Linked DNA regions of Homo sapiens: region 1 is linked to region 2. Evidence: fine-mapped expression QTL. Tissue or cell type: tibial nerve. Region 2 holds a variant in brackets; the other region holds the start of a gene. All regions are shown on one strand. Distances are between the middles of the regions.

Region 1 (4,249 bases), 170 kb after region 2:
AGCCCCTCTTAGCCTGTTTTCTTATTTGAAGATAGTAACTACCTCAGCGATATTGTAAAGATTAATGAGAGAATGTATGTGATGCGGTTTTTACAGTTTAGTAACTCAATGTAATTGGAGACTTATGTATCATTTGCTATGTGGCACACACTATTTTAAGGTCTTTGTATATATTAACTCATTCAATCCTCACAATAATCCTACAAAGTAGGTAACCTCATCATACGGTAGAGGGAAATGAAGCAGAGAGGTTAAACAGCTTGCCCAGGGTCACCTAGCTATCAAGTGGTGGAGATGGGCTTCAAACCAAGGCAATCTGGCCCCAGTTCCATGTCTTTAATCAACACATTATAATGCCTTTCTAGGAAAGATCAAATCAGTGTTTTGAAAACTCACAGTATTTTCTAACCTTTCAGTTAAATATGCAGACTGTTCAATGCCATCCTCCAGACCTACTGATTCAGAATCTGAGATCTGAAGTGCAGGAATCAGCATTGTTGAACAAATCCTTCAAGGTAGTGTATACACAATAAATTCTGAAACTCACTGATTTAAGAAAGAGCAAAAATCCAATGAAAATAATTCAGGTAGAAAAAAATAAAGAGATTAGGATATAGCGATCAATTTTTAAAAATTACCATTTGTTGACAGCACATATGAAATGAGCAGAAAGGCTTAGAGAAGTATAGCCAATGTCTCTGTTACAAAGACACTATATGAAAAATGCTCATATTTTAACTATCCTAAACACCGAGTATTTAAGTCTATTCTTCCTGGCTAACACTTAAAAGTTCAATAGCAGGAAGAATGGGGGTGCTGGAATAGCCAGCACTGGATGAAGGAATGTTTTTATTCTGATTATTATGAAGTCCTACTTTTAAAAATATATTTATACATTTAAATGGTACAATATCCTGGTGTTAAAACCTTAAAAGGAACTTAAAATATCTTTTCGTATTAAGCTACACAAAACTGACGATTTTTAATAAAGATGTAAAACTTGTACACATTTAAAGTTCCCATTTATAGTTTACATTTATGGCACACTTTTAAACCATTCCAGAAGGCATGACTTTACTACTGGGTTAGACAGAGTTCCATATTTCAGATAGTTCATCATTAAAAATTAAAAAAAAAAAAGCCCAAAACAATAAAACCCAAAGAAACAGATGCTCAAAGCATTAGTGGATTACTTCCAAAAAGACTCCATAATAACCCAGTTGGCCAATGAATGAGGGAGGCGAAAAGGCAGGGCGGTGGAACTAAACCTTATCCCTATTGTTTGCAAACTAAGACCCTAGTTAATCACCACCGCTGTTACCACAGCCGGTTTAAATAGGAGTCTCGGATTTTTGCGGTACATGAAAAATGTCAACCGTGAAAGAAAAATATCCGGGTTTTAAATACAAAGGACACTCGAATTTCAGTTTAAATCCCACTCAGGCATTTCAAAGACTGTCACTTCCCTGCAGTCCAGAGTTAATCAAGGTTGCCCGGGTATCTCTCTCAGGAGGAACGCGGAGCCACGTAGAGCATCTTTTCATTCTAAACCCGCCCCAACCTTCCATCTTTCATTAAAAGAGATTTGTTTAAACGTGGCAACGCCTTCACAGTGAGATTTAACTACTGTTAAAATTTCAGCATTCGAGCCGAATTGGTGGAAATAATAAACTACGGGTTTAAAAAAAGCCACGGAGGATGCGTATAAACAAGGTTTACTCGCGGGGGACCGGCAGGGCCTCCGAATCCTCAACACTGAGAGCTGGCTGGCGTGCGCAACCGTCGAGAGCGCTGGTCCAGCAAACGCCCCCAGTGCCCCGAATTCCCTTAGTCTCCAGGCCGGGCCCCAGCACCAGACGTCCCCAAAAGCACTGCGAGGCCCCGGCTGCGACGTCCGGCCTCCTGACACCCTCTCCCACCCCACGGTCCTGCTTCTCTCTCTGGAACGTTCTGCGTCTTCCCGTTCCCCATTTACTCACCAAGGAGAGCTGGGCAGAAGTTCCAGAGCCTCAGTGCCACTTTTCCCGGCCCGCTGTACGTCGGGGCACGCCGACCGCGAGCAGCCACATTCAACGGCCCACAGGATTCAAATTCGTCCACTTCCGCTCGCAAACCCGGAAAGAGCGGTCGGCCCCGCCCTCGAGGGGTGGGACCCGCGGAGGCGCTGGCTGTGGGGAAGGGCCCGTGTGCTCCCGCCCTTCTGGCGCTCCTGCGCTGCTGCTCGGTGCTAACCTGGCTGTGTCGCCTTCGCTTGTTTGTTTTGTCGGGTCTCTCTCCCTATTTAGGAGCTCAGAAAAACTCCGGGCGCGGGGTCATTGTTTCCGCCTATTTGCTCTTGAGGGGATCCTCTTTTTTCCAAAATGGACAGAGATGTGCTGAAGTTTCGTCACCTTCGAGGAATGGGGCGAATGAAAGCACGAACGGAGGCAGGAGGGTTTTATCTTTCCCTTCATCCTCGAGGAAACAGCAGCAGCAGCAAGAAGGAAAAAAACAAACCCTCCAAGTACTTAGTGCAGCCTTTCCTGGGCCTCTCAGTCCTATCCCGGCACAGTCAGGGCTTTTAATTTATTTCTGTCCTGGGTTTAGGGAAAACAAAAAGCCAAGTTCACCCGTATTCAGCCAAAAGTTGAAAATAAGTGGTCGGACCAATTCCTGGTCTCAAATAAACTATTTGATGGTGTTAGAAGGCAATAAATTTTATTTCCCCCCTCAGATAAGGGCTCACTTTACGAGATTATTAAGTATTGTCCCGTGAGATTATTGAAACAACAGTATCTTTTCCTTTATCGAGGACCACAGTATGTCTTTGATCCAAAACGTCTTAAGCTTCTGAAGAGACATCTGGGAGCTTCCAGAAACTAAAGGAAGGACTGGAAATGCTAGGGGGTGAGGGGCGCTAAATAACTCTGACCTTTATGGCTGTGATTGATGTTGCCACCAGATCATCCTCACATCTAATAACATTGAATTACCTAAACGGATCAGTACAAACCAAACCATGACAGCATACCTTTAGCCTTTGTCAAAAATACAGTTTGAGGGCCGGGCGCGGTGGCTCACGCCTGTAATCCCAGCACTTTGGTAGGCCGAGGCGGGTGGATCACGAGGTCAGGAGATCGAGACCATCCTGGCTAACATGGTGAAACCCCGTCTCTACTAAATGTACAAAAAATTAGCTGGGCGTGATGGCAGGCGCCTGTAGTCCCAGCTACTCGGGAGGCTGAGGCAGGAGAATGGTGTGAACCCGGGAGACGGAGCTTGCAGTGAGCAGAAATTGCGCCACTGCACTCCAGCCTGGGCGACAGAGCGAGGCTCTGTCTCAAAAAAAAAAAAAAAAAAAAAAAAAAAATACAGTTTGAAAGGTTTACTAGATTTCTGAGAACCTATGCTACAGGTAATCTGACACAGGGGGTGTGTAAAGCTATTAACTGATGTACTGTTTTTAACAGTGGAAGATAGAAAATAATCTGTGTCTACAAATAAGGAAGGGGTTAAATACATGTAAGTTATGATACTTTAGCATCTGATATACTGACGCTGCGGGCACTAAAAGTAATGAAGTAGATCAGCGGGTACTGAAATGAAATACTGAAAAAGTTTAAGAAGGACTGTAGTATCCTTGTTTGAAAGTATGTGTGTGTATATGGTATACAAAGTTTTGGGATGGATACCTAAGCTGTAAACATCTCTGGGAGCGGGCTGGTAAATAAGAGTAGGAAGAGATGGAGAACTTTTACCTTTCACTTTATCACCAGTTGAATTTTTAAGATAATAAACTTTTTTTTTAATTTTGCAATTTTGTTCTTTAAGGAAGATTGCTAGAAATTGAATACATTCTAGATACAAAATCAGGTTTAATGAGCGTATAAATTTCTAATGTTTGGATAGTCTATGTCCATTCATTCATTCAACAGTTCTTTCTACAATTACATATAATGATTTGACCACACATTTTGTCATTCATGATATAGTGTATTATTTTATGTTTACATATCTAATATGACCCCGTTAAATATATTGCTCCTTGAAGTTTCTTGAAGGCAGAAACTATGTTATATATTTTCCTATGTCTTTCATAATTCTTGGCACCTTCCCACCATTCTTATCCTTCACAGGAATTAAATTCTCAAGTTGACCTGTATACAAAAGTTAAAAATGCCCTGGAAAAGCCACCCAAAAGATTATATATATATATATGATTTTCTTTATACAACTCTATGAGCAAGGTTTTGTGTTTTTTTTTTTTTTT
Region 2 (4,249 bases):
GCAAGAACAAAAAACCAAACACTGCATGTTCTCACTCATAGGTGGGAAATGAACAATGAGAACACTTGGACACAGGAAGGGGAACATCACACACCGGGACCTGTAGTGGGGTAAGGGAAGCGGGGAGAGAAAGCATTAGGAGATATACCTAACGTAAACGATGAGTTAATGGGCGCAGCACACCAACATGGCACATTTATACACATGTAACAAACCTGCACGTTGTGCACACGCACCCTAGAACTTAAAAAAAAAAAATGCCTTTCGTAACAGCATAAAAATATACTCTGAAGACTACAAAATATTATTGAAAGAAATTAAAGATATAAAAGGAAAACATCCCCTATTCATGGACCAGAAGCCTTAATTAACATTAAGATGAAAATACTCCCCAAACTGATCCAGAGATTTAACACAGTCTTTGTAGACATTTGCAAATTCTAAAATTCATAAAAAATTGCAAAAGACCCAGAAAAGCCTAAACAATAAAGTAGGACTCACATGTGTCCTGATTTCAAAAACATACTAAGGAAGCCATGATGATCAACACAGTGTAATACTGGTGCAAGAAAAGACCTATAGATCCAAATAATGGAATTGAGAGTTCAGAAATAAACCCATACACATCAAGTGATTTTCAACAAGGTTGCCAAAAAACCATTACATGGGGGAAAGAATAGTCTTTTCAACAGATGGCAGTGGAACAACTGGATATGCAAAAAGATGAAACTGGATCTTCATACCATATTTTAAAATTATACAATTCTTAGAGGAAAACTCAGGGTCAAATCTTTATGACCTTAGATTTGGCAAAGGATTCTTAGATATGCCACGAAAAGCCCAGGCAACAAAAGAAAAAAAGAGATACACTGGACTTCGCCGAAATAAACTTTTGCACTTTAAAAGACACCATCACAAAAAGAGAAAAGACAACCCAGAGAATGGGGGAAAAAATCTGGAAATCATGTATCTGATACGGGATTTGTATCAATATTACATAAAGAATTCTTACAACTCAATCATAAAAAGGCAAAATAACCCAATTAAAAATGGACAAATGGACAAAGGGGCCAGGCGTGGTGGTTCAAGCCTGTAATCCCAACACTCTGGGAGGCCAAGGTGGATGATGGTGGTGTGCACCTGTAATCCCAGTTACTTGGGAGGCTGAGGCAGGAGAATCGCTTGAACCCTGGAGGCAGAGGCTGCAGTGAGCCAAAATTGCGCCACTGCACTCCAGCCTGGGTGACAGAACGAGACTCCGTCTCGGGGGGAAAAAAAAAAAAAAAAAAGGGACAAAGGATCTAAACAGACATTTCTCCAAAGATATACAAATGGCCAATACACATGTGAAAAGATTCTTGACTTCGTAAGTCATCAGGAAAATATAGATAACAAAGCAAGTGTTAGTAATGAAGTGGAGAAGTGAGAACCCTCATGCACTGCTGGGGGGAATGTAAAATGGTGCAGCTGCTTTGGAAAACAGTCTGTAGTTCTTCAAATGATTACAGTTACTAAGTGACGCAACAATTCCACTCTTAGGTATATACCTAAAAGAAGTGAAAACATACATTCACACAGAATTATGGTGGCCATTATCTATGGTTCCACGTGGACAGCAACAGGTCTTGTCTAGAATACACACTCATTTGGATGTGTATACCTGTTAGCTGCAGGAATCACCTTTAACATTATTAGAGGCCGCAGCAGAAACAATTTCAATTTAGACCTCCTACTTATATATCATTTGATAAAGAAACTCACTTTACTGCAGGTGCAGTTCAACAATGTGCTAACAACCATTATCTACCACAGACTAACTTATATACCTTACCAAACACAAAGTATTGGAGCAAATGTTTGAAACACTTTTCAAAGTGGTAATGAGAGACAGAGTTGCATGATGGAATGTGTGTCAAAACATAAAAGGCATGAAATTAAAGGGGGACTCAACACTAAACAGATTATAGAGATACTTCAGGAAAAATAAGGGAGGGGTGGAGTAATAACACAGGAACTGATAACAATTTCCTCCATATTTCTGAACATTTTTCTTTTTCTCTGACTGATCATGTAGAACATGGATATGGATTACATTTACAAGCTCAGGAAGACGGATCAGTTGCAAACATGACATGAAGATAATACCTCTAAATATAACTGTCTGAGGAATGATGGAATGGACTGTTTTTATTTTCACCTATCTAAGCTTGGAATTAATGTTTTTTTTTCATCTTTCCTCACATGTGGACAAGACAGTCCTATAAACTTGTAGTTATCCACCTCAACATCATGTGACTGGGAATGGACAAAGGGGAAAAGCACTGGCCAGTCTCACATTGCTGTCAGCTCCACAGGTAAGTCCTCTTGCCGAAT[G/C]TGATGGTCTCCTAACTCAGGGATCAAGGTCTGGGTAAAAAACTAACAACAGGAGAAAGGAGGAAAAGTCTTTACTCTCAGAAAGGGAGCCAATAAATGAATAATGCAAAAAAGAAAGGTAACATTATTTTGGTATCTCGTAAGAGCCTGGGAGCAAGAGAATGCTCTTAGCTATATTTACAGATGCCCATAAGACCTGATGAAATTGTCTCCTTTATTTGAAGCTGTCTAAGATGGGTTGCAGGAGATTTAATAATTTAATCTGTAGAATTTTGTCTGAATCTTGATGATGCTAATAACAACATCTTGAGGATAAACACAGAATAATTCTAATGCTTGCCTTTTGGCTCCCATTGGTTTTATCTATTGTAGAGAACCACTTTTGGGAGGCAAAATTAGGACACGTTGTCTCTGAAATGCACACAAACGATTTTGTTGAACAACGAAGTCACAGACCACCACGTAACTATTAAACGCAGTTATGATTTGTTAAGAAAGGTGTCCAGAAACACAGACATAAAATAACTGCTGCATTTCCAACTACTCATAGTAACATGTGCTCTAATGCCTATGTACCTTGTTTCTGTGGGCGGAAGGCACTAAGGTTAAAAAAATTCTTAGTACTGAAACCAAGTAAAGGATAACTAGGTGGGCTTACACACTTATAGCCCTGATCTTTTGCTGAGAATAATTACTACTCATAAGACACTGTCTCGGGGAACTGAAAACTTTTGTCTTCCCTCGCCCGCCATCTCTCAAAAGGTTCCTGAAAGATTTTGGATCCAAAAGGTATATTCAAACTATATTCAAGCAATAAAAACTCAATGGCAACAACTTATTTAATGGTTAAACCAATTTGGGCAGAAACACTGGCACAGTTCTATGAGTCCTATGGTAAGCCCGATTTGCCTTTAATGAAAAGAGACATACTGAGCAAGACGACTTAATGACCTACTGGTTGTTGACAAGAAATGTTATTTCAGGAGGAAGGGAAATGGTGGCAAGCAGCCTGGAAAAATGATAAAACAAACTCAACAGTTACATAAAGATGGGAAGACACATGTACCCAGACTCAAGAAGGATTAAGTACGCTCCTCAATTAAAAGCCAAGGTAGTGCAAGGAAAATGGCCTGGTATCTTGGCAGAGCGAGCAAAAAGAATGAATTTATGGGAAACTTATGGTGCCTCAGTCAATTACAACATTTTGGTATATAAGCAAGAGCTGATTTTGTTGAGAAAGATGAGAAAACATTTAGTAAGCAATCTAAATCATAATGTAATTGCTACTTGGTGCAAATGGTATCATTGGTGAGGTTCATATGAACACATCCTATGACCAAATGAATGAGCAAATGTATAAGGAAACTGAATTAAAATCCCTACAAGATGGTCTTCTGGTAAAAGACTAGATTATCAGAGAAATAACTAGATTAATAATTGTTATAAAATTTCACAAAACTCAACTTTCTGTGGTAGAAAGAGGTAAAACTGTCAAGCTTGTACATGATTAAGAACAAGTTTTCACTGGATTATCTGGTAAACTGCAATTTTTTTAAAAGTTATAATCTACTTCAGTAACTACAAATGATTAGTATTTTGGTGTTTATCTTCTTGTTTTTCTGTTATATAATGTAAAAGATGCCAAAAGAAGAATGATGACAAGTGATTTAAAAAGCTTAACCAAGGGTAAGAGCGTGTGGAATGCGTAAGTGTCTATTGCAACCATGTGTTTATCCCCGGGAACACCTGGAACCAGTCATGTTGCTAACTGTTGGCCAAACCTGAATGAAATGTTCTAACTAGTGATGAATATAGTCCTGTGCTAGAGTCAAGACTAGGGGGCAACTTGTACTAGCTTGTCAGCACCGTTTATAGA

Alleles and levels. Positions count from the first base shown, and alleles are read on the strand shown. Sizes are in standard deviations (SD) of each study's normalised expression.
For the expression in tibial nerve of the gene that starts at base 2,094 in region 1, allele C in region 2 goes with a lower level than allele G (small effect, 0.19 SD a copy in GTEx).

Evidence for each region. PIP is the estimated chance that this variant, and not a neighbour inherited with it, causes the effect.
Region 1: it holds the start of G2E3, and the variant in region 2 is the best candidate, but not a certain one, in a credible set for the expression of G2E3 in tibial nerve (GTEx, PIP 0.75).

What each region holds. Positions count from the first base shown.
Region 1 is chr14:30,557,003-30,561,251 of GRCh38, reverse strand. It overlaps G2E3 (G2/M-phase specific E3 ubiquitin protein ligase), which reads right to left and starts at 2,094. Exons shown (of 15, transcript NM_017769.5): 1 at 1,980-2,094. It overlaps G2E3-AS1 (G2E3 antisense RNA 1), which reads left to right. Exons shown (of 4, transcript NR_151720.1): 3 at 417-515. RefSeq lists an enhancer at 2,239-2,428.
Region 2 is chr14:30,725,879-30,730,127 of GRCh38, reverse strand. The region is part of intron 23 of SCFD1 (sec1 family domain containing 1); the gene reads right to left. Among named protein-coding and RNA genes, the nearest start is that of SCFD1, 110 kb to the right of the region's middle. The variant G/C (reference allele first, on the strand shown) is at 2,374.